Homo sapiens: one gene and its partners. The protein of the gene in region 4 interacts with the protein of the main gene of each other region in a biochemical or structural test. Each region holds a gene or a part of one and is shown on either strand. Other genes may lie near its edges. The genes, in order: RASSF6, MTNR1A, HDAC7, MPP7, CLDN19, ATP2A2 and SLCO1C1.

Region 1 (4,455 bases), on a different chromosome or scaffold from region 4:
CCAGCTTCTCAAACTTGAGTTTTGCCCCTGGATTTTGTCATTCTAATAACCCACCAAAAGGGTTATTAATGTCCCCGACTGAAATCCCCCAGTGATGACCCTGGGGTCCAAACACTTCCTTCTTCCTCCTGGGTCCAGATTATTTATCATATATTCCTTTAATTTAGCCCTACCTCCACCTCTCCATCCATGTTCCAAGAGCCTATACCTTGCCAAAGAGTTCACTTCTCTCCTCATTTCTCGGCCTCTTAGCAACATTTGACAAGATTGATTTTCCTACCTTTTAAAACACTTTCTTCTTGATGCTTTTGAGACAAACCATGAATAACAATCACCTCACTCTATTTTCCTGCTATCTCACAGGCCTCAACACTAGTCTCCTTTGCTGATTCCTCCTTTGTATGATCACTAAATACTGGCTTGTTTGAGTGTCCATTCTCAGCCATCCTTTCTTCTCTATCTATACATTCTTCCAGGTAATCGAATCTGTCTCCATCCCATAATCTCTGTTGAGCTCCAGACGCATGTCACCACCTACCTAATCTCTACTTAGATGTGTACCAGGCATCTCGATATCTACATGGCTGAAAAAGAACCACTGACTTTCTCCCATGCTCTAAAATTTCCTCCTCCACAATTCTTTCCCATCTAGGCATCAAAACTAATATTTAGTCTCATTTTTTCCCTCTTTCATCATAAGCCAAATTCAATCCAAAAGTAAGTCCTATTCACTGTACCACTAACATATTCCAAATTCGAAAGCTTTGATTTCCACTGCTACTACCCTAAGCCAAGCCACCATCATCTTTTTCCTGGATTATTGCGTCAGCCTACTAGAGGGCCTCCCTCTGTTGTGGTCTGAATGTTTGTGTCCCCACAAAACCTAGATGTTGAAACTTAACCCCCAATGCAATAGTATTAACAGGTGAGGACTTTAGGAGGTGATTAGTTCATGATGGTGGAGACTTCATGAATGTGGTTAGTGCCCTTATAAAAGAGACCCCAGAAGCTGCCTGGACCCTTCCACCATGTCAGAGCATAGCAAAAAGACCATCTAAGAACCAGACAGCTTGCTTCCCTCACCAGACACTGGGGATATTTGGAACTGAAGAACCACTGATAGCAGCTTCTTATAATTACAAAGTGAAAATTGGCAGTGATGGACTGAAAAATCATTGCAGTAGCTTTCCAACTGGCTCACTCTTTATTTGCATTCATAAGAAATATCAAAGATATCATTAAAGAGGGCAAATAATTGCAATGTAGTTATAGTGACACACTGTTGATCTATGCTGAGGTAACTCATAGCCAGCTTCAGAAGACTTCAGAAGATGTGATGAAAGGGTTTCCAAGGCTCTTATATTATTTTCTGACTTTAGGAAGGAAGAAAGTTGAATATAATTTAATGTAAGAAAATAAAAACAGGATAAAATTTTCATTCATAGGCAGCACATAATATTTGAGTAGGAAATAATATTATTCATGTCTGATCTAAAAATTGGGTAAATAAAATATTCAAACAGTTTAAATACCTGAAAGGTAAGAACATGCTTTGGTAAAAGTCCCATTGTTAGTATTAACAGTGAAGTGAAATACAAAAGTTAGCCGGGTGTGGTGGAACACACTTTTAATCCCAGCTACCTGGGAGGCTGAGGCCCGAGAATCACTTAAACCTGGGAGATGGAGGTTGCAGTGAGCCAAGATTGTGTCCCTGCACTCCAGCCTGGGTGATAGAGTGTGACTCTGTCTCAAAAAAAAAAAAAAAAAAAGAGCAAAACAAATAAACAAACAAAAACAATGAAGTGAGGCATAGATCTATGAATTCAAATAGTTTTTCATCCTCATCTTCCCATTCCCATTCACCATGATTCATAGCAAACTAAAACCTGCTAGGGCCCTTGTGAAAATCTCCTAAATTATAAAGACTTGGTAGATATAAGCATCTGAGCAAATTTTCTCAAGGACTTAAGAGGAGAATAACAGAGAAGTCATGAATAGCAACGAGGGAGAGAATTTATGAAGAAAGAAAAAATTACAGTTCTAGAAGCCTGGAGGTCTTACTTGGGATGTTCAGTAATTTTGGTAGAACATAATAAACTACAACTTGAGGAGGAAGATGGTTGTTACAAATCTATGTAGGCCCTGGGGCCAGAGATTATTGACTTAGATTGTGTGTAAAATAAGATCATTATTTAATAAGTTTGGTTATTTACTTTTTCATTTTGTCCAGAAACAATGAAGCTGGAGAAACAGGGAATTAGATAGGTCAGCAATTAAGTCCTGGAGAAATCAACAGCACTAGAAGTATAGGAGAGGTAGAATTGGTCTGAACAAGCCAATGAGATCTGGATGGAGCCTGAGGAGGCAGTGTTGGGCAGCATTAGCGTTCCAGCAATGCTGGAACGTGGTTCACCTCCCCCTGCTCTGCATTCCTGCCTAGAGGTGGGCTTGCCTGGACTTACCAGTTGCCTTGTGACCAGAATGAGGCCAGAGGACAGGAAGTGAATTCTAGTACAAATTAAATCAAATGGGTCAGTCATTTAAAGTAACTTCCTGTTATCCAACCATGAGTTAATTAAATGGTTACATATCTAAAAGTGGAAAATTGGGTTCACTCGTTTGTAAATTCAACAAATATTTCACGAGTTCCTTCTCTGCACCTGCTACCGTGCTAGGCACAGAAAGTATAGCCTGTATCTATATCTATAGCCTCTTATTTCTGAGGCCACAAGGTGCACAAAGTGTCATAATGCTAATGATTTTACAAAGAACTAATATATATACATATATCTATATCTATCTATCTATCTATCTATCTATCTATCTATCTATCTATCTATACATATATATACAGGTGCTAACTTCCCTGTATTTCCCAGCCAAAGACAATTTCTCTTGCTTCTGAAATTTCACAGGAAATTTTCTGTAGCTTTCTAATTACTTACTGCTTTCTCTCTCTAACCATATTTTATTTTACTTAATTTGATTACTAGGTCCTTTAGGACAGAATTATTGCTATTTCATTTTTGTGTCTTCTAAAGTGAGTGAATATATGCAGGCATATAGATAAAACATACACAAAATATTGAATACATCCAACATACAGAGAGGTATATTATAATATTAATGGTAAAATTAAGAGCTAAGAGATTATGTGTGATAATTATTTCTTTTTTTATTTTGTATGTACTGTCTAAATCATAGACAAGGAATATATGTTACATCTCTCTCACCCACGTCCCCAGTAAAAGCTACTTAAAAAAAGAACAGAAAGTATCACACTAGAATAGCAAGTGTGTATTTCAATTATGAGATAAGAGTATGTTAAGGGCTGTACACACGGAGAGTCTTTTTAATAAAATATTGTTTCAGCTTGAAGAAGCAATAGAAAGTTACAATTATGTATTCATCTCCAAAACGAAACTGTTTTCTCAAAGTTATGACCTGGAACCTTGGAGTAGAGAAGAGCAGAGTTATATGCAATTACATCACTTCAAGAAAATGAGACAAAGCATCTATAATTCCATCCAGTATCTAGTTCTCTCAAAAAAGGAAAAGAGTTAACAGAGTGATGGTTTCTGGGAAACATTTGGCTCCATACTTTTTCTTAAAATGTGCTTTATTTGCAGAGACAGTAAAGGTCAAGAGTTGGCATATATACAAACTATCACTTAATTAAGTAATATTGGTTGCAGTCAGTGATTGTTGGTTTTGAGATAGAAATAATGTATTATAATCATTGAATCTAAGAGAGGACTAAGCAGAATATGAATCAAACACACTTCTATGTGAGCATGCCACTGCCCTCAGTTCAAGTGGAATCTAATTGGAAATGCCAAAACTTTACTGTTCTATTGCATATTTACATGGTACTAATGCCATGCATTTTATTCTGCTCAAGGTGCCCTCAGGGAGATAAAGAAAGCAGAAACGGTCAGAGAAGCAAATTTGTATTAAGGCACTTAAGGCATCTTGCCACCACTGGGTCTGGGAGGCGCTGCTCAGTCTGCCGACAGCATCTTCTGGAATTACTGGTGTGGTGGAACTCAAAAATTTTCTGCTTCACCTGAGCTTCCCAGTAGAAATTCTTAGGCTGACGTCACAAAGATCACGACTCATTTTTCCTGTTTGTATATTTGCTGCAAAAGAATCGACACTCTCTCCTCTTAAGCTCCTTTACTAGGCTCTAGGTGATGATGAAGTTTTCCTTTAAGTTAACATCCTTATTACTTAAATAGGAGACACTTCATGTTCTACTCCTGAAAGCAGTGGTATTAGTTAAGTTTGGTTGTTGAGATTATGTTATGAAAGTGATGAAATCACTATAATTTATCATTTTAAACATACAAATTAATTTTTGCAACAGAATAACTCTCTAACTGTAATGTGAAAGGAAAATATTCAGAATTCCTTTCTCAGAGGTTTTGTTTTCAAATGGCCTATACTTGAATATTT
Region 2 (4,455 bases), on a different chromosome or scaffold from region 4:
TAATTTGAAACAGTGATAAGGATAGCTGATTCAAATATAAGTTTTGGTATGCTTATTAAAAGTTTTGATGATCTTCAGACCTCTCATTTCAGCTAAATTAATTTTGTTGGCTTTAAGGATGAAATGTTGGGAAGAAGAGAATGGAAGAAATGACAATGTGAAGGCATCTAGGCTTTGAACCATCACTTTCCTTTGGAAAGCTTGGTATAATTGTGGTGATTTATGCCACCTTCCTCTCCTCAAGGGACTGTGTTGACATTTGACTTCCCAGGGAATAAATTAAAAATGGCTAACAATCTGCATGGCGGGGACAGTGGACAGCCACAGCCGACGCAGGCTGCAGACAACCACTGGTATCTGTGGTGCCAACAGAATATTCGCTCTACTCTTGTCCACAATTTGATAATAGAAGTGAAGCTACCATATCATATCTTCTGAGTAAATTTGATAGCATAAGGGACGATTCCCGCAATGGAACGCTAGGATTAGATCCTTGCTGTGCTCCTTCTGATTTCAGAAATCAGTGAAGCTAAATACCAAACTTCATTTTCCACATTTGTTGAATTGCAGGTAATACCCAACCGCTTAGCCTCATAAGAGTGTTGCAATGACTGTAGTGAAGTGGCGCATATGAGAATACTTTGAAAAGGATAAAACACGTAATACTGTGTTGGCTTGTTTGTTTTCTGGGTACACCTAACAAGGGCGTGCTCTGTTTGCTGGAAATCATTGCACTATAGACCTATGATTCGTGCATTTTTCTATATGTACATTATACTTAAATAAAACTTATTTTACAAAATATCAGGCAAGAATACAATACTATCTTGCCTATTCAAAATTCAATTATCTGGCAATCTAACTGAGGTAGAGTACAGCCAATAAATGGAAATTAGCAAAAATGACAGGCTCTCACCTACAGCGGATTTGTTCTAACTTAGAGTGCCACAAAACTGTGATACTGGTGTCTAGGTCCCTGTAGATTATGAGCAGGAAATTAGGAGGAAGATTGACACATTTAAAGAAATAGCACATAATAGCAAGCAGTATGGGTTGAAATAGACTCATTAAATGCAGATCTGAGAAACAGAACAAGCACAACCTTTTGTGCTTACATTGTGAAGATGTGAACAGCCCTGCTCACCATTCACGGCTCCTGAAAGCAGCACAGTGCAGCAACATATGTATTATCATCACCTGATTCATCAGCGAGAGATGTCATCATGAGTGGTGTGTTCTACTTAAGAAGACAGGGATATGATACATTTTAGAAAGATACCTGTCAAAAGCAGTTTATTATTATTATTATTTAATCTGTGTGCACAGTAGGGTAAACTTGTCAGTATATGTTTTTAAAAATGGTTTCCCAGAATGGCTCTATGGCTGGATGGCTGACTCTGTGTGAAGCCTCTCTTGCACTTGTTGCTTTCAGGTCTCTATAGAATGTTATATTTATTCATTCTGCATTACCACTCAGAGAGGATGCATAGAGTACGGAGTGAATGTGGACTTTGGGCCTCAGAGATCTGGTTCAAGTCTCGGATGTACCACGGCTGTTTAAGATGCCACTTTTCTTACAGGGATACTAGAAGGATAAACTTAGATTCTGCCTATCAGTCCACTTACCTACCCATCCACCCACCTATACGTCCAACCACCCATTCATCCATCCAGCCACCCATCGTCCGTCCATCCATCCATCTATCCATCCATCCACCTACCTACCCACCTATCTATCATTATGAGGTACAAATAATAGTATTATGATGTTAATGCTAGTACGCATCTGGTGATTAGTTCTTTTTAGATTGTTTTTATTTTTTAAGTGTATGTTTAAAAAAAAAAACAAGTAGACAATATGAACTGGAAAACAGTGAAATCAACCAGAAATGGAAGGTTTAGAATCTAATTCCCATTTGTGACATTATGCAAAATACACAAAATCTCCATTGTCTGAGTTTTCCCTTTTGTAACAACCATTATCTCTCTGCAGCAAGAAGGCCTGAGATTTAAAGACTGATTATTTCGATATTCAGCTGTTCTCTAATTTTAAGTGAATCAGCTCTAGAAGCTACAGTAGCTTCCTTGGGCAAGCAGGCTACCATTCAAAAACCTACGACGTAACTTGTACTGTACAGACTTGGAAAATGATTTCAAGCTAACCCCACTTCATGCGATCTCCAAGCCGAGAGGTTTCTTGTTGGCGCTGCTGTAGTTTCCCTCCTGTTGCTTTCCACAATATTTGAAATTACTGATTCAAGGCAATTTTTTACTTTAGAGACATTTTATTGATTTTTCCCCCTTGTATTCTTAGCTGTTGTTCAGTTTTCTATGACTTTCTATCTTGGTTTGTATAGTACATTGTTATGAACCCTAAGTTTTTACAAATATGTCAAAGTAATTCCCAGAATCCCCTGTAAATCTTATGACAGTAGTTTCAGACTCTCAAATACATGATTGAATTTGTCTGATCTTTCGTTCCTCCAGCTATTCATTTCGTAAGAAAGTATTTCTGGCAGGAATTTTCAGTGTTAAATTAATCACAGATAAGATAGAGCTTACTTTTGCTTGCCTTCAGCATCATTTTTCTCTTGGCAATTTTGGGAGTTAACCTAGGATAAAATAGTCCTAGATTAGACCTCCTTCTATTAATATTTACTGCCATTTGATGGTTCTGTTTTAAAAAGCATCTACACTGAAAACTATCATGCCTTGGAAGTCACTTTAAATCTCCACAGAGTCTTTGGAGCTCATTCTGCCCATTCTTCCTTAGCACCTTTTAAAAATAATCAACAGAATAACTGAAATGAATGGTAAGATCTTTACAAGGTGCCTTAAGCTTTCCCTTTTTTCTACATATTTGTAAGTTGCCTCGCTGACAGAAATACCCTTTCTTCTAAAAAGGAAACTCACATACTCCTTTAGAGTTTTCTAGTACCAAAAAGGCAATTAGTGGATTGTTGTTAAAGAAGCGTTTTTATGAATGCACAGAACTCTGCACGGTATCATTGGTGCCATCTCTGCCTCTTCATGAAGATGATCAGCAGCCTCACTTCTGCCCCTCTCAAATAATCAAGGTGACCAGGAACCTGAGCGCTGTATGTGATATCTCTGTGATTTTTAGTGCAGTTAAATAATGCTGCAGATAAGAAATAAACTGCTGGATTCTCTGGATGAAGTACTCAAACACTTGTCTTTCTACAGAGCTGTATACACTTTCGGCAATGCCATTGAAGGAATCAGTCTCAGAAGAAGAGACGGGAGAGAAAATGCATTTGCACGGTGCTGAATATTATTTAAGTTAATGGAGGTGAATTTGAGTTGTTAGGGTGCACGGTTTAAAAGCGTGCTCACTTGCTTTGATACTGAGTAGTTTTGGTGCTTATTGAGCTGAACATTTACCTGGATAAATACTTACTGCATTCCTAGAGTATAAGGCAGAATGTAAATGGTTGGTAAATTTTTGCAGGTTTGTCAAAATTCAAGGTCCTGTTCTAAGCGTGGGTCAAACGCGGCTCCGACTTTCAAAGAGATTACTTTCTATCGAGGCACTTTAGAAATGTGTGTTCTTCTTATTTTCAAACAAAGAGAAGACTTGGGGTACAAAAGTATGAAAATAGGAGCATATTTATACAGCAGAAAACTTTTTCAAGAGAAATGCGAAAGTTGGCTGGTAGATGGTAGCTGGAGCTTAAAGCAATCATGAGAATTTTTTAAAGTTGTTATCTTACGAGGAGAGAACAATGTAATAACTGGGAGATGTGAAAACTAGTTCACATGTGAAATAGCAGCAGATTGAGACGGAATTAGTGAGAGAATTTCAAAGAAACTGATCAGTGGTAGAGACACGGCATAACTATTAGTGAAGAACACACTGGCTTCAGGTCTTTCGAAGAAACGCCTGCTGGAGAACTAGCCTGCTAACTTACATTTATACTTGTTTTCTCAAATAGTTATTAAGTGGTGGATTATAAAAATGTGTAATCAGTAATTAGTATTTCCTCTTTGATGATTTTCTGAACATATTTAGGAATATGTTCTTGGAAGGGATATTGTGCTTTCATCCTTCCTGCATTCATTCCCTCCTCCTTTATTTAAATGCTTGCTGGATGCCTCCTATATCCATCTATAGGAGCTTAGGACACGATTTTGTTTCAAGAGAAAATTCTGGTTCACTCATTTTTATTTTAAGATGTGGTTTAAATTGCAATTTTTACTTTTAAGATTTTTTGCCAGTTAGTTTTCATTCCATTTTTTCCTTTTATTATTTACTTATCTTTTTTAGCTCCTTTCGTTGTTCCCTCTGAATTTGGAATACTTCCAACTGTTCTCATTTGTGTATATGTCTGTGTAGGTATCATATAGTCTTTTACCATGTACTTTTTTTAAAAGATTGTTTTACATATATAGTGTATATATATATATATATATATATATATATATATATATCTTTAT
Region 3 (4,455 bases), on a different chromosome or scaffold from region 4:
CGGCCTCTCTGTGCTGGACAGGGCTGGCTGTAATATGAGATCCTGAAGGAGAGGAGGTGTCCCAATCTCAGGCCAGCCCACCTGAGAGAGTAACTGTGTGGACATGGGGTTAGTGGCAAGGAGAGGGAAGGGTTCAGGGTTACACATATCAGGAACCACTCTGTCTTGCATAAAGTCATGAAGTTATGAGGAGATCAGAAACCAAGCTCGGTTACAGAGGGGCAGGTACACGAGGCCCAGCCCCATCCCTCGTAGGGAGAGCTGGGCCCTACACTCGACTCACAGGACCATGCGGGAACTCAAGTGTGCAAAGGTCCTCCACCGCTCTCAACTTCTGCTTAGAAATGTCTCTTACACAGCTGTCAGTGCAGAAGGGACATAGCTTAGCAGTTAAACGCAAGCACTCTAGAGCTAACCCGCCTGGGTTCAAATCCATCTCATGACTTACGAATGACTGTGTGTGAGTTACTTAATCTCTCTGTGCTCACTTTCATCTGTAAAGTGGGTTATAGTCAGGATTAAATCCATCATGTGTAAAACCATCAGTGTCTGGATGTGATTAGTGGTGTACTGATGTTATCTGCTATTATTCTTATCATCACTACCTGTACAGGAAATGCAGAAATTACTAGATCTGCCAAAAGAAGCCAATAGAGGTCAAAAGACAACACTCAAATGACAGCTCCTACTCGTTGCAGGGGTTTGCGATGGCTGAATGCGTTCCCACACGCCATCCCCTCTAGGCCTCCCAACTGTGATGTGGGTGTTATCTTCACCCAAATTTTACACAAGGGGAAACTGAGGCTCAGAGAGGCTACTGCAGAACTAAGACATGAAGCCGCATCTCTAACATCAGGCTCAGGGCTTTTCCCCCAGGGCTCTCGAATTGGAGGGTGCTACGGACAGGCACCTACCCAGTCTACAATGAGGATCTTGCTGGCCTTGCTCTGCTGTTGCAGCTGCCGGCAGGCGATGGCCACTGAGTTGAAGAAGCAGAAGCCCCTGGAAGGAGAGACAGGTCCTGCCAGCCCATTCTCTCCACATGCCCTCACCTCCCCAGGCCCCTGGGTTGGCCCAGCCTGAGAAAGCTCAGGGAAGAAGAGAGAATGTCCCTGAAGGAAGTTCCTGGGGGCTTGCCCCCCACCTCATCCCACCCAGGTCTTCCCTTAGCCTTACATGGCTGTTGAATGATCTGCATGGTGTCCTGGGGGCCGCACCACAGCGAAACCATTCTGGAAAAAGAAAGAATGCTTGTCAATCAACAGACAGCTCTGACCCACAGCTGCATGAACGTACCCCAAGAGTTCCAATCTCAACCTGGTTCCCAGAGCCCTCAATTTCCCCTCCAAAACCCTGTAGCAATCTCTAAGAGGAATGCGATGCCTGGGGTTCTGGGCCTGGATTCCCCACTACCCCACTCTGCTTCCTCCTTTGTGGTGTGTCCACCTTCAACCCAAACCTCCTACCTTTAGCTCACGAGAAGCCACTTTGAAGGCGAGGTCAGTGACACTGCCAGCGGCCCAGCGGGCTGCATTGGAGGAATGAAGCTCATTCCAGATGGTGTCAGTGTCCACCTGCGGGAGCCAGAGTCAGGGCCCGCATCATCCAAGGCTTCACACAGGAGCCAGGGCCCAAGGGGGTGGTCCCCACCCCACGGCCAGGACCCCAGGGGCAGGGAGCTGGGCAGACAGTGCTGCCTCCCCAGTGCCCCACCGCCCAAAGGCAAGGCCTCCTGTGTCCCCCAATCCCAGCATGACTTTTTCCCAGCTTAAGTCCCAGCACCAGCCCATTATCTGGCCAGCACTCTGCTGGCAGCATCACGCCTGCCTCCCCGGTCAGGGGAGGGGGCATGGCGTTACCTGGGCGGGACTTGGGGTTTGGGCCGGGAGGGGGTTTTAAGCCCCAGCTGACTCTGCTCAGGCCCTGCGGGACGGTCGGAGCTGGAGGGGCCGTCTGCACCACTGTCTTCCACTCAGGGCCCCTAGCCCAGGCTGGGAGGCCCCCCAAACCCAGTCCCTGGGCCTCAAGGCTAGGGAGGGGCCGGGGGGCATGATGGGGAGATGGGGAGGGCGAGGCAGACCAAGAGAGGCGAGGAAGGCAGAGAGAGTCGCAAGAGGCTGGAGAAAGAGAGAGAGAGAGAAAGACAGAGAGGGAGAGGAGGGAGGAGAAAACAGAAGCAACAACAGTTGGAAAAACCAGAAAGTGGCAAGAAATGGGAAGTTGTGAATAGGGCACTGACTGGCTCCCAAAGTCCCCCACCAGCTACAGCTCCCACTTTCCCTCCGGAATGAGGCCTCCATCCCCTGCCTCTACACACCTTGCTTGAGAAACTACTGCAGGGATAGTGTTAGGCGAGGAGAGCTGAGCCGGAGGGAGCGGGAAGCTCCCTTCACAAAGGGGTGAGGACTTAGGAAGCAAAGCTCGCGAGCGGAGTTTGGGGCTATGTCCCGGAGTGGGGAGTGCTGGGATCGCCAAGGACACCGGAAGCACCACCGTGATGTCACACCAGGCAGCCCAAGGTCTGGGGACCAGGCTGAGGTACCCCAACTTGCCACTTAAGAGCAGACAGAGCAGCCTGGCGGCCAATGCCCAGTCATGGGGGTCTTTGAAGGGAGAGATGATCCTAAGCCCCAGCCTTGGCCCTGCTCCTGAAACCTCACTCAACATCTACCAGACACCTTCTAGGGGAAGGCTTAGGCTGGACTCCGCATTCGGGGGAGACTGTGGGTCCGAGACACGCCTGTCCAAAAGGAGCTTCCTGCTGCAGGGGGCACCTCAGGAAGTCCCTGGCTCACCCTGTCTGGCAGAACCACAACAAGCAGAGGTTCTGCAGGGGCTGGGCCTGGGAGAACCACAGGGAGGAGAGCTGAGAGCCCTGGCAACGCCCCCCTGAGACCCCTGGGCACACTTACCCCAACCCCACCACAGGGCAGCATCACAAACATCCGCTGTGCCAGGAGCCCTGCGGGGAGAGGCCCAGCCCACGTCAGCGTGAATACTCTCAGCCTTTGGCCCAACAGGGAGCAGGGAGCCCAGAGAGCAGGGCCGGGTGAGTATTGGGGGAGAGAAATATGGAAGGGAGAGGTGGAGGTGGGCTGAGGAGGGGCTTGGCAGCAAGCTGGAGTAGGGACGTCCAGGGTGCAGGAGGAGGCTGGCTGGGCGGGCAGAGCCGAGACAGGAGTGCATGGGAGCTGGGTGAGGTAAGCTGGCATGGGGAGACAGGGCCACTAGGCCATTACCTGCCAGCTTCCCGTTGTCCAGTTTGAGGCGGCTGAGCGGGTTGGTGCCGTAGAGGAGCACGTGCCGCTCAGAGTGGACCGACTGCAGCTCTTCCAGGGAGGCCTTCCGGCCTCGGAGACACTGAAAAGGGGACCACAGAGCTCTGAGCTCATGCTCGCCCCTTCCCTCCCATCACCACCACCCCATGTGCCCCTCATCTCTCATGGGCCCCAGGGCCCCCCACCCCTCCCCTCCCATGACTCCTCCCTCCACCCATTCCTCGGGCCCCACCCGCGCCTCCTCACCTCACACTGGCTCCGGAGCCCCCGCTCCTGCAGCCGGGACCAGATGCTCTGGATGCGGCCGGCGTGCTCCGGGTGCCTGCTGTTGTCACCGCAGGAGCACTGGTGCTTCAGCATGACCGAGTCATAGATCAGCCCTGCAGGAGCAAGGGTCAGAGCGGGGACCCAGGGAGTCCTCACGCCCCATGGCCTTGGCTGCAGAGAACACGCCAGCACCGCCACAGCAGGCACCCACATGGAGCCGGGCGGGTACACACCCCTCACACCCACACAGGCCTGCATTTCATCCTGCCCCTACCCCAGCCCCAGCCCCTCACACCTGTCCACACACGCCCAGACACTTCCCCAGGTGGCAGCAGCCAACACATCAACACAGCTCCAGCCAACATGGCTGCCACAGAGCCACGGCCTTCCCACATGCGGACACGACTGCTGGGTGGCCCAGGACTCGAGGGCCCAGCACCAGGCCCTCAAGTGCTCAGAGCAAAGCATGAGGCCTAACGTACAGCATCTCACACACGTGTCATGAACCCAGAGAGGCTACCAAGGGGCAGCAGGAGGGAAAAGAATTCCTAGGAAACCCCCAAACCGGGAGCTAAGAAGCCCACGATGACACTGGACCATGTGATAGACAAATCCAGCTTTGGAGAAGTGACTATTTCAGTCTGACCCGTGGGAAGTCTTCAGAGGAGGGTCCTGCTCATTGCGGGTGGGAGGGTCAATTTCTGTGCGTCTAGGACACCAACGACTCTCAAAATGCTCACACCATGTGACCCAGGAATGCTACTTCTTTAGAGTGAACCTTGGGAAATAATCCCAAGCATGAGGAAAGATTTATGCATAAGGAAATTCAAATAAGCTATAATCTAAATGTCTAACTGATAAGGGATCCCTCAGTAAAAATGAAATACATTAATGAAATACTATGAGACTC
Region 4 (4,455 bases):
ACTATTTTATTATTTGTTTTCTGTTTGTCTCTTCTGTATTTTATTGTATTTTTCTTCTTTTTCTGCCTTCTTTTGGATTATTTTAGTGTTTTTTAATTTCCATTTTAATCTACTTGTTGACTCTCTGGTGGTATCTCTGGATTAGCTTTTTACTGGTTGCTCTGAATATTAATGTATGCATATCTAACCATTCATGACCTGCTTGCAGTTTAACTTGGTGTCATTTCACATAAAATACAGAAACCTGGCAGCCATTTAAGACCCTTTCCCCCAGCCTAATCTTTTTGTTTTAGGTGTCAAATGTATTACATTTGCATACATTGAAAACTATCAGACAATATTATAACTTTTCTTTAAAATAGTCATATATATCTTAATGAACTTAACAGGAAAAAAGTAGACGTTTACATTTACACAATTATTTGTTCTTTCCTCATTCCTGAATATAAAAGTTTCCTTTTTATCATTTATCTTCAGCCTAAAAAACTTCCTTGAATATTTTTTTTGAACAGTCGGCTGTGAATTCTGTTAGTTTCTCTTCATCTGAGGAGGTCTTTATTTTGCCTTTATTCTTGAAACACATTTTGATTAAGTATTTTCCTTTAGTGCTTTAAAGATATTATTTCATTGATTTCTTATTTTTATGATTTATAATAAATCTGTGACAGTTTAAATCATTATTCACTTATGTGTTCAGTGTTTTTTCCTAGCTGCTTTGAGATTTTTTATTTATCTTTGGCTTTTAATAGTTTGATTATAATGTGTCTAGGCATAATTTTTCCCTTCTGAGTGTATCCTGTTTGGGATTTGCTGAGCTGCTGAAATTGGTAAGTTTATGTATTTCACCAAATTATAGAAGTTTGGGGCCTTTATTTCTTCAAACATATTTTTCTGCCCCAATCTCTTTTTTCCTCTCCTTCTAGTACTCCTATGACATATGTGTTTTCTCATAGGTCCCTGGAGTTCTATCTATATTTTTTAAATCTTGTTGTTGTTGTTGTTGTTTAGATTATATAATTTTATTGTTCTGTCTTCAAGTTCACTGGCTTTTCTTTCTGTCATTCTGTTATTGTGCCCATCTAGTGATTTGTTTCTGTTGGATATTTTTATTTTTCATTTCTACAATTTCTATTTGTTTTTTTCTTTATAGTTTCTGTTCTTCTGCTAAGAATTTATATTTTTGTTCAATTCAAGTATATTTTCTCTTACCTTTTCAAGCTTAGTTATGGTACCTGTTTGAAAGACTTATGTCTAATCTAACTTCCAGGTCATTCAGGGTTGCTATCTGTTATCTTTCCCCTTGAAAATTGGTGTTTTTTTTGTTTTGTTTTGTTTTTTTTTGTTTTTGGTTCTTTCATGTTGAATAATTTCAGATTGCATTTTGGACATTGTGAATATAATGTTGTATTAACACTAGGTCTTGTTACCATATTCGGGAGAATGTTGATGTTTTTATTTTAGCTGCCAGCTTCTTTTATCTCACCTTTGTTATATTGATTTGGGTCTGTTAGGATGCAAGGATTAGTCTAAGACTTGTGTGCATGGTTCAGATCTCAGCTCAGTTCTTTAAGCCTTTTCTTCATTGGCTTAGATATGTTTTGCGATACTCTTTTTCAGGGGTTAGGCTGAAACCTGTACATTCCACTCTCAGTTCATAAGGCCTTTGCCGTGCTGGTTTGAGTTTGAACTACATGTGTGTAGCACAGAGAGGATTCTTAGACTATTGTTGACTCATACACAGAAGTGAAGTATTTTCTTCTCCAGCTTTCTTCTCTCCTGGATTTCCTCCACACTTTACAGCCCACAAGGACTTTTTCTACCCCCCGTCCCAAGTTCTTTGCACCAGAACGTTAGGGCTTCTCTTGGCATTTTGCTGCAGATTCTACCATGCTGCTCTGCGAAGGATTCCCACCCTTGGGGCAAAGCTAAGAGGAAAATAGAGTTAAACTCCTCCCCGTGCAGTTTGACTCCCCTCTACAGTCTACCTGCTTTACTTATTTTCAAAGTGTTCGGGTAGTTTCTTGGCATCCATAGTTTTTAGTTGGGATCTGCAGGAAGGATGGCCTGTAGTGGGTTTACATTTGCCATGTCAGCACTGGAGTGCCTTGGGCTTTGTTCATGTTGTCGTTTTAATGAATCCTATATTTTCTGCTCCATTTTAGTTCGTTAATAAATAATTAGGCAAGATTACTGAAAGGTTAGAAGTTCAATAGTATTCTAAGATGATGCTATTTATGACTTTGCAAAGGAGGAATGAGTAGCACACAGAAGTATTTGGCTTCACTTGGCTGGTAAAACAAAACTTTGATGGCATACCCACTATGTCCCATGAGAAGAAGAGAGTCAAACAGTTTCAGAGTTTATCTAACAACTTAGTGGTTAATAGATTTGCTTTAATGAATGAAGATCAATAAAGATAATAAGCATATTATTTGCAAAAAAAAAAAAAAGGTTTTTTTCCTCAGGAGTTTAAATAGCACTCTTGTATCAGGTTAGAGAGCCTTCAAAATAGCAAATAATAGCAGAGACATACAATGCAATTAACTTTTTAACCCATCTTCAAATCAATATAATTTTAATAACAGTGGAAAATCTGGATTTATAACAGCTTACTGTATTTTATTAGCTAATTTGCTTTTTAAATACATTTTTAAATCCTGTTGAAAAAACTAATTAAATACCCTTGATTTCTTTTTTAGTATTTTCCTTAAGGTGGCTGATGTGGGCTTTTCTAAACTCCTTTTCATTAAATCATAGATACCACCAGAGCAAGAAGAAGCCAGGAGAGTGATGGTGTTGAATACATTTTCATTTCCAAGCATTTGTTTGAGACAGATGTACAAAATAACAAGTATGTGGACATTTTTGAGAATTTTCATGTGACTGTTTTTTATAAGCACATGCCTGTCCCGTTTTAGACAACTGAGAGTTCTCCATTTGAAGTGTATTTTAATTATCATAATAATATTTGAAACAGATGAAAAGGTAATAATTTGGTTGGTAATTATTGTTAATCTTCACCTCTAATTTTTTAGTAACCTGGATTTGCTTCATTTCTATAAAATGTGTAGACACTGCTTTGCAGAATGAGGGAAGGTTGCAAGTGTCTTATTCTGACCTCCTTCCAGCCCACTAATTGAATCTTAACATGTAATTTGGATAGAATTTTACTTCAAAAACCAACAACTATGTAGTATATCACTAGGTCCAGCGTCTGCTTCACACACCTGCATCTCATTCTCTCATTGGCTCTTCAAAAAATTGAAATGATGATAATTAACTTGCTGGTACCGTCTTCTCTAGCTAGCTCCAAGCCCACCCCAGTGCCCCCTGCCCAGGTTTTCCATCTGCTGAGGCACAAATATTTTAGGCTATCAGAAGCAATATGTGTTTTAATGCAGGATTGTGGGATTTTATTAAAACATCGAAATGCTTTTTTCGTGTTTGGCGCAGTGATTGTGTTTTTATAGCACATGATCGACTGCCCTGGCTCCATTAGCCACCACCCAGCGCCTCTAGTTCTGAAGCTGGGCTGGGTTACTCCGTAGCGTGCAATGAAATTCCAGTAGTTTCTATTGTTTGGCTTATTCACCATTTTATTGCATTGCATTAGTTCTGAAGAAAAAGGGGGTGATGGAAAACATTAGAGCCCTACTAGACTAAAGTACTTTTTTTCTGCTTAAGTGTAATTTAAGCAAGTGTTACTGATTTGAAAATGTATAATAAAAGATTTTTTAAAAACTGACATTTTGAAATACTTGGCTCTGTTTATATTATTAAACACAGTTTAAAAAAATTACGTGTTCAGCAGAAACGTCTTTTACCTATGAATTTTATCTTGCCACCTATAATTGTTTTAAATTCACAAATGATTCCAATGCATTTAATTTTTTACAGGTTTATTGAATATGGAGAATATAAAAACAACTACTACGGCACAAGTATAGACTCAGTTCGGTCTGTCCTTGCTAAAAACAAAGTTTGTTTGTTGGATGTTCAGCCTCATGTAAGTAAACAATGAGCTATTCAATACCCTTCTGACCCATGTCATCTACAGCACCTCATGTGAGCATTTCAGTATGAAATAATATGAAGTCAACTCACTTTTGGCATATATGTGGCTTTTCTGAGATGGCAAAAGCATTTAAATATAATTGGAGACATCTTTGGTGGAGAAAAAGAAAAGCCCATAATATTATTAGAAAGAGAAGTGGAGGAAGCTCCAAGACCTGTGTTTGTAACTCTTATTTATATTCAGTTTTTGTCAAGTAAAGCAACTCTTAGATGTTTCTACATATTCTGTATTTTTAAAAAATACATCACATTGTTACATGCATAATGCATTCTTATGTGTTATGTATTAGTAACAGTGTCTATAATTTTTAACGATGGACATTTTGGTTCCAAGTCTTTGACTTTGGTTCTGTATATATCCTAGCAAATAACCCCCCACTA
Region 5 (5,153 bases), on a different chromosome or scaffold from region 4:
GGGCAGACAGAGCCATCAGTGTCCCCAGGACCCAGCACAGGGCCTGGCAGCCCAAGTGGCATTGGGGACTGTTGAAGGGATCGGGGGCCGAGTCCTATCCTGACATGCCTGAGCTGGACCTTGCTTGGCAGACTTTGTGGCTGCAGCCACCACCCAGGGAACAAACCTTGTACCTGAGATCTCCTCCCTCCCCTTGCCTCTCAACACCTCTGCCTCCTCCAGGCATCCCTCCCGATTGCAAAAGCCCAGACATCTTTTCTCATCCTCTCTCCACCCCAAGGCCCAAAGCCCATTGGGATGTCTAGGGTTAAGACTGTCCCATTCTCTGCTCCTGGCTAGGCTGAGAAGTGAGGGAGGAGCCAAGGTGGGCCCAGGCCCTTTGCAGAGCATCCCCTTCAGTTCCCATGCCCACAGTCTTACAAGTCCTGGTTATCTCCTGAATATCAGCCTGCTTTCCACTGCTCCCTCCCTGTTGCCCCAAACTCTCTGCTCAGACCTTTGGGACAGCCGCCTTCCTGGTGTCACTCCCTCCCCACCATTCTGCACATCACAGCCAGAAGGACTGCCGCTGCCTCCACCCAAATGAGGAACAAAATCTTCCTGTGGTTGCAAGGCCCTCCACGATCTGCCCTTATTCTCAAGTTTCTTCCTGGCCCAGAATAACTGCTGCCTCCTGCAGGAAGTCATCTCAGCCCTGCTGCCACCAGCAGAAATGAAAACAGCTCAGGCTTGCTGGGTACTGTCCAGGGCCCGGGCACGGTGCCACACCCTCACCTGCATCCTGCTGGATCCTGACAACCATGTGTGAACTGGTGCTCAGGTTCTAGCTCCATTTCACAGAGGAGGAAACTAGGCACAGAAAGATTAAGTAACTTGCCCAGGTGACACAGTGCATGCAAAGCTGGGATTGATTGATCGTTTGATTTTTTTGAGACAAAATCTCACTCTGTCACCCAGACTGGAGTGCAGTGGCGCAATCTCGGCTCATTGCAACTTTTGCCTCCCGGGTTCAAGCTATTCTCCTGCCTCTGCCTCCCGAGTAGCTGAGATTACAGGCGCCCGCCACCATGCCCAGATATTTTTTGTATTTTTAATAGAGACGGGGTTTCACCATGTTGGCCAGGCTGGTCTTGAACTCCTGACCTCAGGTGATCCACCCATCTTGGCTTCCCAAAGTGCTGGGATTACAGGCGTGAGCCACTGCACCCAGCCAGAGCTGGGATTGAAACCCAGAGCCAGGGCACTTAGGTCCTTAGAGAGTCCTTGCTGCACCTGGGTGCCCATCACAGGCCTCCCGCCCCTATGGAGGGCCCCACCACACTCCTCCTGGCGCCCCCCTTTAAAGCTTCTTGGACAGCAGCTGGATCCTGTCCCCACTTCCCCCGCCAGGTGATCCAGTGGACAAAGGTCAGTGGCCCCAGAGGAGGTAAAGCAAAAGACCCAAGCCCTGGCACCCACCTGGCATTGACAGGTGTGCTTGGGTTGAAGAACTCCTGGGTCACCAGGGTGGCATACCACGAGACAGCAGTCAAAGTGCAGAGGCCTAAAGACAAAGCAGAGGGGCGCTCAGCTCTGCTCTGGCCCCCCGAGGCCACTGGGGCTGGGGCTGCCTGCCATGGTTGTGATTGTGCAGGAGTGAGGGGCACTCACCTGCCAGGATGAAGAGGGCTCCCCCGGCGATGGCAACACGGCCCTTGGCAATGGGGTTGCTGTCTCCCACCCGCGTACACTTCATGCCAACTACGCTGAGGACCATGGCCACGAAGCCCAGGAGCACGGCCACCACCATCAGGGCCCGCGCTGATTGGATGTGACCTAGGGTGGGCGGGATGACACTGAGTCGGGCTGGCGGGGATGGGGGTTGGGTCGGTGCCTGGGGTCGGTGGAAGGAGCCCAGCTTGAGAGGGGCTTGAGCAGGAGCTGGCCTGGGGGGTCAGACCACCTTCTGGCAGGTGCAGGATAGTGAGGAGTGACAGCCCGGGCATGAGGACAGGGTGTGGGGGTGAGAGTCCCCTTCACTGTCAACGCCATTCTCCACTCGCCCTTGCAGGCTTTTCCGGTAGTATGATTCACTCTGCTGTTGCTTTCTGGCCTGGGGACTCCCTCTTGGGCTTGGCCCATCCTCCCAAGCAGCTGAGGGCAGCTCCAGGGTCCCCTCAGGTTTGGTAGGTGGAAGAGCTGGGGGTATCTGAGGCCCAGCTCAACTCAGCCTGAGCCCCGCAGCAACCCCTCCCCAGCAGCCATTCAGACAACAGTCACTTTCCCCTCTGCCCATGGCAGCTGGAAGCTTGCCTCTTCACGGGTGCATGGGTCCATCCTGGGCCCTGGGGGGTGCTCAGGAGACCTGGGTCCCTCAGCGAGGCTAGATGACCTGCCTGAACTGACCTGCCTGAACTGGCACAATGGGGCTGGTTGAAGGCCGCTCTGCTCCCAGCTCCCATGGGGAGCAGATTGTCCCTGGGGGCTCCTGGGCAGATTGCAGGTGGATCACCTCCACCCCAGAGTTAGAACTTCGGCGGTGCCTGTCAGGCTCATCTCCACACCCCAGAAGGAGAGGGACTGCATGCAGACACACCTGTCTGTGCATGCATGTGCACGTGTGTGCGTGTGCATGCGTGTTTGCATGCATGTGCATGCACCCATATGCTGGCACACAGGCCTGGGAGCAGGACTAGGGAGCAGGTGTGCATCATACAGTGTGTGTCTGTCTACTGACTGTGGGGAGAAGTGGATGAAGGGTCTTAACTGAGTCTTTCAGAGTGCCACAGGTATTAGTATTCCCCTTTAGAGATGAGAACATCACAATGGGAAGAGGTTTGGTGACTAGTTCAAAGTTATAGTGACAGAGCAGGAATCTGGACCCACAGCCGCCAGACCCTAGAGCCCTCCCCTCCCACAGGGCAGCAGGCTGGCCTGGACCGTCAATGGGCACAGGGCAGTAGTGGGGGAATTGTAGAGCGGAGGCTGGAGGTTGGAGCCCAGCGCAGATAGCAGACTGTGAGGAAAACTTGCTCCAGACTCCCCTGCTGTTCCCACCTCCCATCTCCCACCCCGCCGGCCTGGGGCCTACCGTCCAGGGCGAGCAGCGAGTCGTAGAGCTTGCACTGCACTTGCCCAGTGCTCTGGGAGGCGCAGGACATCCAGAGCCCTTCATAGAGGCCCACGGCAGTGATGATGGCGTCGCCTGCGTAGGAAGACTGCTTCCACTGTGGCAGGGCTGTGCTAGCAATGATGCCCACCCAGCCACCCAGGGCCAAGAAGTAGCCCAGGAGCTGGAGGCCTGAGTTGGCCATGGCCCAGGAGAGAGGACCGAGGGTCCCAGGACTCAGAGCTGGGCCAGGGTGCCAGCAGGGGCTTTGGTCATGGCCAGGTGGGAGGAGCAGCTGGGCAGGGGGAGCAGCGAGAAGGAGGGTCAGAGGCAGAGAAGGAGAGGTGGTGCGGCGGCAGCGGCTGGAGCAAAGGCAGTGGCTCTGGACTCCAGAATGCAGGGGGAGGCCCAGGGGCTGGAAAAGGCCAGGGCCCGCCCACAGCAGCCGCCTAAGCCAGAGCAGGGTCCCCAGCAAAGCTCATGCCCAGCCCCCTGGGGGCGGAGGGCCGGCCCATGGCCCAGGTGGTGTCCCTGCCCCGCCCCGTTCCGCAGGGATAGGGAAGGGAGGGGCTGAGAGGAATGACCCAGCTGCCCTCTGGGCCTTTCCCCACAGGGAAACCCCTTTAGGAACCTGATTCGGGTGTCCTAAAATTCGGATAATCCCTAACCCAAACACCAGCCCTGGGAGGATGGACTTTGCTCTTGCAAGGCTGATCTAACCCTTGGGGTTTTCTGCCCTTTGACTTTAGGACAGAAGGGAAAGGAATGCCAGTTTGCAGCGGGTAAAACTAGAGTTAGATGTCAAGGATAACTTTTTGGCAGGGGCTCTGAAGCTGGATGTGGGGAGGCTGAGCTAGCGGTGGGGTGTTGGGAAGAGGGGTCATGGGTACCTGGGAGCTGTGTGTGCCAAAAATCAGGGAGGCCAGACCAGGAAATATGTACTGTGGGGTCTTTTTGAGATCTGAGGGGGACAGAAAAGGGGCCCTATCGAGGCTGGGCCAGCGCTGGCTGCCGGCCAGCAAGGGGCCTGGTGGGGAGCTGGGGAGACAGCCCCAACCTTCTGGCATCAGCCTGAAGGAAGGCGGATTGCTCAGCCCCTTAATCCCCTTGCTGGCTGGCTTAGTAGCTCCTGCTGGGACTGGAACACTGGGCCCTGGCCCCCAACTCTAGAGCAGCCTGGCGCGGAGCAGTGGCCTCTGCACATTCCCGGGGTTCAGGCTGCCCGCTCCGAGCACCCCCACCTCCCTCTTCTCTCTCCCAGTCTCTCTTGGTCTTCAGGAGTAGGGGAATGTTTAACTCTCTTCCACCTCATTAGCAATCCCCTCACGTTCAAGTGGGCCCCACTGCAGCGTGGGTGCAGAAGGAATGTCACAACCCTGCTTCCACTCCTGCCAGCCCCCCGCCGCCCCCTCCGTCCCCAACAGCCCACCCACCCTTCCTGGACTGCACTGGGGGAAGGCAGGGTCCTGCTGCAGACCCCTGCTGGCTTCCTCCCCCACAGCCCCAACCCCCCTCTGAAGGGACAAGTCCCCAGCCCGCTCTTGCATTCTTCACGTGGCTATGCAAACGAGAGGGTGCCAGGCGCTGAGCAGACAATGGCAGCCCTGTGTGCCCGCCCAGGGCGTAGGCCTCTGGTATGGCCTGCAGCTCTGGCCAGAGATGGGGGAGTGGTCTGCCATCTGAGGGTCAAGGGTGGGCACTGCTTGACCTGTGGTGGTGCACACTGGGACCCTCAGGCTCTCTGTGCTGGGAGGGTCAGAGCCACGTGGATCCGAGCACACACAGACCTGCTTCCTGGACGACCTGTGGGTCCCAAGACCAAATGGGGTCTAGGACAGTGGCAGAGAAGTAAGTCCTGAGCTCAGATTCTTCTACCACAATGACAAGACAGTAGGATTGAGGGGAGCCTCCTCCATCCTACTGGGGCCGCAATGGGCACCCTGTGACCAGTGCATTAATTTAAGCATGTGGGCCACTGTTGCAGGCAGCAGGCCTCCTAACAGTAAGGAGACCACGGCAGAGGGAGGTAATAGACCCCCAGCCAGGAAACAGCAGGAAGGGCTTT
Region 6 (3,129 bases), on a different chromosome or scaffold from region 4:
ATTCATTCTCTTGCCTCAGCCTCCTGAGTAGCTGGGACTACAGGCAACTGCCACCATGCCCAGCTAATTTTTTGTATTTTCGTTGTTGTTTTTTTTTTTTTTTTTTGAGACGGAGTCTTGCTCTGTCACCCAGGCTGGAGTGCAATGGTGCGATCTCGGCTCACTGCAAGCTCCGCCTCCCGGGTTCATGCCGTTCTCCTGCCTCAGCCTCCTGAGTAGCTGGGACTATAGGCACCCACCACCACGCCCGGCTAATTTTTTGAATTTTTAGTGGAGACGGGGTTTCACCATGTTAGCCAGGATGGTCTCAATCTCCTGACCTCATGATTCGCCCGCCTCGGCCTCCCAAAGTGCTGGGATTACAGGCGTGAGCCACCGCACCCGGCAATTTTTTTTAGTAGAGACGGGGTTTCATCGTGTTAGCCAGGATGGTCTCGATCTCCTACCTTGTGATCTGCCTGCCTCGGCCTCCCAAAGTGCTGGGATTGCAGGCGTGAGCCACCGTGCCTACCCAGAACTGATAGTTTTAAAAATTAGATTTATAGAATCATCCAGCTATCCTTGTATCCTGGTATTTTTTAAAGTGATAAAGAATCATCTTAGGGAATGTGCAAAACCAAAAACCCAATCCCAAACCCATCACTGCCAAATAAGCACTAAAGTAACCAGCAAATGAATTCCAACAGCTGCTTCAGTTCTGTTCACCTCTCCATCCCATACCTATCAACAACGGGGAATGTGGAAGTTTTGGATCTGAACAGCCTAAGAAACATCTCTCCATTGCTAGTCTCCAGATCTTTCCAGGCTGCTAACAATGGAGAGCGCGGAGTCTTGGCTTTCTTCACCACACTGACGAGTGAGGCCTTGTGTGTTTAAGACCCCACTGGTAACACACACTCAGCTTCCCCCATCCTTAAAGGGTAGGGAGCCAGGGTGGGCTTCACATGGGCGGACCTGCTGCCAGTCAGCCTGTCTACTGTGAAGTCGAGTCCAAGAGGTTCCTGTCCCCTCTAGTCACATGGCCACCCTGCCCAGACTGAGCCTCCCCTGCTTCCCTGTAGAGGGGCAGGCCCGGGTGCGGAGTGGAGGCCCTTGGTGCCCATCAGTCCCCCTCCCACAGAACAGTCACCACCACACTGAGAATTTATCATAGAATAGATTTATTTACCTGAAACCATGTCTGTGCGACGCTCATTGTTACCAGCACAGAAAGAAACAAACTGATCTCTATTTACAGTCTAAAGTCAAACATGCGCAGTGATAAATTGACATTTAGCATTTTATTAAGATAAATGCATCACAATATTTGTATTGCACCAACATCTGTCTACTGCTTCTGATTTCATTAAATAAGTTACATTTAATACAGTGCGAAATAGCTGTCTGCACACTCAGAAAATAACTGAAAATGAACTGGAGGCCTACATTTTAACCATTCAACACCTGTAGTGTTTTTAATGAATTTATAAATAAGCAAACTGTACAGGGCCAATTAAAAAGTAGCATGTTCCAATGTCACTGGAGAGGGATCTGGCTACTTACAACCGAAGGCATGCATTACAATTGAATACTGTACATTTATATAAGCTATGACATTTTGCAGAGAAATGTGGCGACTTGGCTGACGGCTTCCAAGTTCTTAGATAAGGTTACAGAGCCTCATTCCTCTTGCAGCAAAGAAACCAAACTTCTCTGGAGAGGCTTTCTGATTAAGCTAAATTGTACATCTGTAATCAGTATTTTGATTTAAAAGCTAACAACCCCATTGGTAATACACATTTCCTCCACATAACACAAAGTGAGTTGGGAAGTTTTTTACTTTTCTTTTTCCCCAACATCAGTCATGCACAGGGTTGGTAGATGTGTTGCTAAAAACGCACATGCACGCAACCGAACACCCTTACATTTCTGCAAAATGGTTTAGGAAGCGGTTACTCCAGTATTGCTGAAAAGGAAAGAGAGAGGAAATCAGCTTCATGAAATACAGAGAGGAAACGTTAGAATACCTATTTAAATAGATGAAGATCAACAGCGACAGATGAAAAGGAACATTCAGCTTGATCTTTTCAAGGTTTCAAGACCAGCATTTCTGATTTACTGTCCCTGAGGTGCCGCCCACACAGGGTAGCATCTAGAAGCACTGGCTCAGTGACACAGACTCCTCGTGTCGTCTGGCTACAGAATAAAGGCTCTGGAGGAAAACCCCATGAGGCAGACACAATCGTTGCAGCTGTGAAAGCAGCGAGACAGGCAAGAGGACAAGGTCTTGGTTAGTGGTGCAGAGGGTGAGGTTGATGGAGAAGTGAGCAGCCAGTAGCAGCACAGCCTTCCTGTCCCTGCCCTGTGGGCACCCGGCTTCTGGCTGCTCGCCTGCCTTGCCTAGCCCTGGAGAGGAAACTCCTCCGCATCATTCTCCTCAGTAAAGGAGGGTGAAGCCTACCCTTCTTGCTAACTGCAGCGGGTGTTTGGACAATTTGGTGGTTACAGTCACAGGGCAACTGCTGGCTCTGCTCACAGGCACTGCAGACGTGGTATGCTCTGGCCCTGGACAGTGGCTAGATGCTTGGTAGACACTGAGCTAATCTTGTGGTCTCAGGTCTTAGGTCTGCCCACCTCAGTCAGGGCTGAAGCTCCAGTCCGAGGGGATGTGGGAGCAGCTGTTGTGAGGGAAGTCGGCCAGATGCCCTGCTTGCCTGGGAGCTCACTGAGCTCAAGGGACAGCTTCCTCCAGAATGGATCATCTGCATTCTGCAGAGTGGTGTCCCAGTTAGGGTATGTATGATTGTTGGTCTTCTGGGCAAAGCTCAGAGAGGCCAAGGGAGGCACGGGGTGGCAACAAGCGACACTGATGGCTGGGCCTTCAGCCACCTGCCCATCAGGAAAGAATGTGGAAGTAAGTTTCAGGCAAGAGCTGCCTGACAGCAGGCACATTGCGGGGCTGGGCAGCTGCTGCCTCACTGTTAGGTGAGGGCCTGAGGCCAGGGATGTGCCAAGACCACGGTGCTGGACCTGGTCTTTATGGGTTGACCTGAGGAGGAGATGCTGAAGTGTTTTCACCCAGCAAAGCCTTCAGTGAAATGGAGCAAGTGGCCCTGCTCAAAACAGCAGTGGGCCTAACCCACTCCCAGC
Region 7 (4,455 bases), on a different chromosome or scaffold from region 4:
AATATTGGATACACATGGACATAAAGTTGGGAACAACAGACAATGGGAACTACTGGAGAGGGAAAGGAAGGAGAAGAGAAAGACTGAAAAATTACCCATTGGGTACTATGCTCACTACCTGGGTGACAGGTTCAGTCATACCCTAAACCTCAGCATTATGCAATATACCTTTGTAACAAACCTGCACTGTACACATACTCCCTATTCCAAAATAAAACTTGAAAAATATAAATAAATAATAAATAAAAGACAAAAGAAAAAATGAAAATCTAGCTGCCTATCCAAATTTCTTTCATTAAAAATCTTTTTAAAATTCCACAAACTTTAAAAAGCAAAATCATTTCACAAATGCTTCCTAGCTCTTGGATTTAAATTTTATTGTCATTTATTTTCCTTTAATATTTTTCCACAAAGTTAAAGTAATTAACTTGAGAAAAAATGCTATCTCTAAACTTTAGAAAGAATGTGGCTAACATTTAAAAACATGTACAGGAAGACTAAGTTGTCGTTGTAACAGTTGGCCCTTGAACATGTCGGGAAATTTCTGTTTATTTACCCCTCCATGGTATGTCAAATGCCTTCTCTCAAAGAAGCAAAGGAAATGTGCTTCTTTGTATCTATCTCATATTTTATTGCAGGAAGATCATTATCCCATAGCCCAAGTTAAAAAAAAAAAATAAGAAAAAGAGAGGTTGAATAGAAGAAGAAAAGAAAGAGAGAAATAATATTTATTGAACGACAGATATACGCATTTACTATGCATTTTATCTGTATACTTTCATCTTTATTTCAACCTAGTGATATATTTATTTTCACCATCGTACAAATAATCAAAGTAAGGGTGAGAGGATATTGAATAATTGGCCCACTTACGCTTAGTCGGCTGCACCCCATACTTACTAATGTGAAACCAATATGATCTCAGGAACAATCCTAGCTATAACGATGTAAAATTGTTAGATACTATTACTTATCTCTCACAAAAGTATTTGAATTATCTGTAGATATGACATGTCAGAAACTTTGAAGAATAGAGTTTTAGGTAAATGCAAATTAAACCACCATGAAATACCACAACCATACCGCATAAGAATGGTTACAGTGAAAAGAATTGACAATTCCAAGTGTTGATAAGCATGTGGGGCAACTGGAATGCTCTTACGTTTCTAATAGGAGTATAAATTTGCACAACTTCCGTGTGTTTTGGCAATATCTACTCTATTTAAACACATATTCTCCCTCTGACTTAGCAACTGCACTTAGCAGTATAATATAATATATATTATTATATTATCTATTATAGTATTATAAATAACTATTAGTTAAAAGAAAACAACACAAATGTCCATTGCACTCCAGGGTATAACCATGAAAAATGAGCATAGTGGCCCACCAATGTACATGTGGAATGTTGTTTTCTGCTTTTAACTATTATAAATAATTTTATAATAGCATTATTATTATATATTATAGTATACATAATATACTATATATAATACCAGATGTTACTATATTATTATAGTATTACCATATATCATATATTATACTATATTATCTGTACTATATGTAATATACTATAAATTTTAATATAGCATATAATACTATCTTATAGTGTAATATGCTATAATATATTATAAATAATATAATATATATTATATTAATACATATTAAAATACATATTTTTATTTGTATTTTTTCTTTCTTTAACTATAATTATTTAAAATACTATTATAAATAATTATATGATTTATAATATAAATAATAATTATAAAAATTATTAATATAAAAAGTATTTTATATATTATATATGATAGTTATATATCATGTTGTATATATTATTTTATATAATTTATTATAATATATATAATATATAATTAATACATATTATATACATATTAATATATGTTAGATATTTTAAATATATGTTTTATAATGTAATTATTTATACTATCATAAATTTATAATATTACCTATAAATATACATATAAATACATAATGATTTATAATGCTATTATAAATAATTGTATGTATAATTATTTTCATAGTATATGAAATTATATATTTATAATATATATTATTATATTATCTATTATAGTATTATAAATAACTATTAGTTGAAAGCAGAAAACAACACAAATGTCCATGAACTATAAAATGAATAAACTGTGGTTTATTTATGTAATAAGATATGACATAGCATGAAAAAGAATGTACCACTGCTATGCACAATATAAAATAATCTCATAGATTTCACTTCAGTTGAAAAAAGCTAGACACAAAAGAGTATATAATATACTATTTAATTTATATGAAGTTCAAAAACAGGCAAGGCTGGTCTATGATAATATAGTTTAGTATAGTTATTAGCTTTGGGGAAAAGTTTTGACTGATAGGAGAGTTAAGCTTTCTGGGGAACTAAAATATTCTGTATGTTCTGGATGCTGGATGTGACACACACACACACACACACACACACATATATATATATATATATATATATATATATATATATATATACACACACACACACACACATTATATATATCAAAATTATCCATCTGAACTGTTTAAGGTCTGTAGACTTAACTGTTGATAAGTTATATCTCAATGTAGACATAAAAGTGAAATAAAATAAAGTCTCTCTTAAACTTTAAATCCTCATCTATTCATGTTAAAATCAATATAAAGCATTGATTAGCATGCATGGGGTGTTGGAGAAAAAAGCCACAAAATATTTCTTTAGGTCAGCCAATAAGTAATAAAATTAATTTAAATCAATTGATGTTAAAAGTAAAAATGTTCAGTAACGTAACCTTAACATCAAGAATTTTGGAGAAAAATCTTTTAAAACTGTCAATTATATTAGCATGTGCTATATGCCCATTACCCAAGATTATCATAGAAAAATTATATCTCCTAAAATACATTTGGCTGTTTTTTTCTCCTTCCAGGTCTCTTTCAGAGGTAGAAATATAGACTGATTTTTACAATACTAGAGAAAATTATTTTATACCACTGGAGTCTCCTATCATAAAGGAATATGTCCCAAGAAACAAATATGTTATGCCTTGAAACAGTAACATTAAATGACATGTTCATGGATTAAAGAAACGAATCTTGATTTTTAAAATATCTAGTTGCTTCCACAGTGGTGGTCATGTATTTGTAAGTTCTGGTTTCTCTTCTTTCATTTCTTCATACTTTTCTATCTTATTATTGACTGTGTTGCTAGAAACACAACCCTTTGAACTAACTCAGTTGCCAGGAGTCAGAAAAGTTTTTTGACCGCGAAAATACAAGTTTTGTTTTGGAATGAACATCTTTTAACCTATCTCATTGTGCATTTTATATAATCCTAGAAACTGTTCATGTAAAATGGCCACTGTTTTGAGGTTTCGGCTGCACTTAAAAGACAAATATCCAGTATTATTAACAAACTCCTCATAAAATGCATGTTTCATCTCTATGATATCACTTCAAGAACTGCTTGCTCTCTGGGTTACTTACCCACAGATGTGAATAATTCTTGCTACAACATTCTTGTTACTTTTTGAGCTCATCTAAAATGTCATAAATTACCTAAATCTTGGAAGAATCTTCTCGAAGATTCCCGAGTTAATCAGGTACCTCTAAGACAGTCCCTCTGAGAAAGCATGAAAGGCAGATGAGCATACCGATCACAAAGTTGGCCCTGGAGGATGACTGTCCATACTGCTGCTCAATGTACTTTGGTTTGTACGTCACCATGCCGAACAGAGAATTGAACTGAACAGTGCTTGTACATAAATATAGGAAGTATACTGGGTTTCCAAAAAGATTCTTCAGTGATGGAAGAAAATCTGTAAAACAAAAATAACATAGACTAATTAAAGTTGGTGTCACGCATGGAAGAAGAAGTAGCCGTGCTGGCAGGACTTACAGGGCTGGGGCCCATTGTCACACAGTTTGGGAGTAGTCACAGTGTGGTACACACATACACTATGTATATAGTAAGCCACTGGCATGCGTCAAGCCTGCGATCTGGCCAGGTTCGAATCCAGACATAGGCACTCATTTCTACAGACATGCAGTATAGATTATATTAAAGGTAGGAGTCAGACAAGAACAGATTCCTCTAACTGATGTGGGCAAAAGACGAAAAGGATGAGAATACTCCCTCATCATCTAGCTGGGAGCCACAGGCAGGACATAAAGACCTTCACTTTTCTTGTCTCTATTCCTCAAACTTAGCTTGTGGTCAAAGAGAAAGAAATATGAGAGTTATCTCCATTTAATATATGAATTTTAGTGTTAGAAATGAGCATTGGTGTTCTCCCTTTTTCCTATTATGTAGCCTACCAATTAGACATGTGAAGAATTTCTATAAATGTAAATATTGCTTGAAGGGACAAGAAGAGGGGGACCAATATCATGAGGGGCTGCTCATTTCCATGAAGGGGGTTCATTAGAACACTG

What was found.
Region 1: the proteins of MPP7 (region 4) and RASSF6 interact in a test that uses a peptide from one of them, tested with the Homo sapiens proteins (one large-scale study listed by IntAct).
Region 2: the proteins of MPP7 (region 4) and MTNR1A interact in a test that uses a peptide from one of them, tested with the Homo sapiens proteins (one large-scale study listed by IntAct).
Region 3: the proteins of MPP7 (region 4) and HDAC7 interact in a test that uses a peptide from one of them, tested with the Homo sapiens proteins (one large-scale study listed by IntAct).
Region 5: the proteins of MPP7 (region 4) and CLDN19 interact in a test that uses a peptide from one of them, tested with the Homo sapiens proteins (one large-scale study listed by IntAct).
Region 6: the proteins of MPP7 (region 4) and ATP2A2 interact in a test that uses a peptide from one of them, tested with the Homo sapiens proteins (one large-scale study listed by IntAct).
Region 7: the proteins of MPP7 (region 4) and SLCO1C1 interact in a test that uses a peptide from one of them, tested with the Homo sapiens proteins (one large-scale study listed by IntAct).

Annotation. Positions count from the first base shown.
Region 1 is NC_000004.12:73,613,429-73,617,883, forward strand, and holds part of RASSF6 (ras association domain-containing protein 6), read right to left. Parts: intron 2,509-4,455; coding exon of another isoform or gene 2,463-2,508; intron 1-2,462.
Region 2 is NC_000004.12:186,548,805-186,553,259, reverse strand, and holds part of MTNR1A (melatonin receptor type 1A), read left to right. Parts: intron 1-4,455.
Region 3 is NC_000012.12:47,788,347-47,792,801, forward strand, and holds part of HDAC7 (histone deacetylase 7), read right to left. Parts: intron 4,324-4,455; coding exon of another isoform or gene 4,313-4,323; exon of another isoform or gene 3,659-4,312; coding exon 3,525-3,658; intron 3,361-3,524; coding exon 3,240-3,360; intron 2,963-3,239; coding exon 2,913-2,962; intron 1,575-2,912; coding exon 1,467-1,574; intron 1,233-1,466; coding exon 1,177-1,232; intron 1,003-1,176; coding exon 915-1,002; intron 1-914. UniProt on the Homo sapiens protein: Responsible for the deacetylation of lysine residues on the N-terminal part of the core histones (H2A, H2B, H3 and H4).
Region 4 is NC_000010.11:28,058,046-28,062,500, reverse strand, and holds part of MPP7 (MAGUK p55 subfamily member 7), read left to right. Parts: intron 1-2,757; coding exon 2,758-2,851; exon of another isoform or gene 2,852-2,985; intron 2,986-3,897; coding exon 3,898-4,006; intron 4,007-4,455. UniProt on the Homo sapiens protein: Acts as an important adapter that promotes epithelial cell polarity and tight junction formation via its interaction with DLG1. Involved in the assembly of protein complexes at sites of cell-cell contact.
Region 5 is NC_000001.11:42,736,771-42,741,923, forward strand, and holds the start of CLDN19 (claudin-19), read right to left. Parts: upstream 3,467-5,153; 5' UTR 3,294-3,466; coding exon 3,071-3,293; intron 1,816-3,070; coding exon 1,651-1,815; intron 1,544-1,650; coding exon 1,459-1,543; intron 1-1,458. UniProt on the Homo sapiens protein: Forms paracellular channels: coassembles with CLDN16 into tight junction strands with cation-selective channels through the strands, conveying epithelial permeability in a process known as paracellular tight junction permeability.
Region 6 is NC_000012.12:110,349,108-110,352,236, reverse strand, and holds the end of ATP2A2 (sarcoplasmic/endoplasmic reticulum calcium ATPase 2), read right to left. Parts: 3' UTR 1,946-3,129; coding exon of another isoform or gene 1,932-1,945; 3' UTR 1,144-1,931; downstream 1-1,143.
Region 7 is NC_000012.12:20,722,474-20,726,928, reverse strand, and holds part of SLCO1C1 (solute carrier organic anion transporter family member 1C1), read right to left. Parts: intron 3,840-4,455; coding exon 3,675-3,839; intron 1-3,674. UniProt on the Homo sapiens protein: Mediates the Na(+)-independent high affinity transport of organic anions such as the thyroid hormones L-thyroxine (T4), L-thyroxine sulfate (T4S), and 3,3',5'-triiodo-L-thyronine (reverse T3, rT3) at the plasma membrane.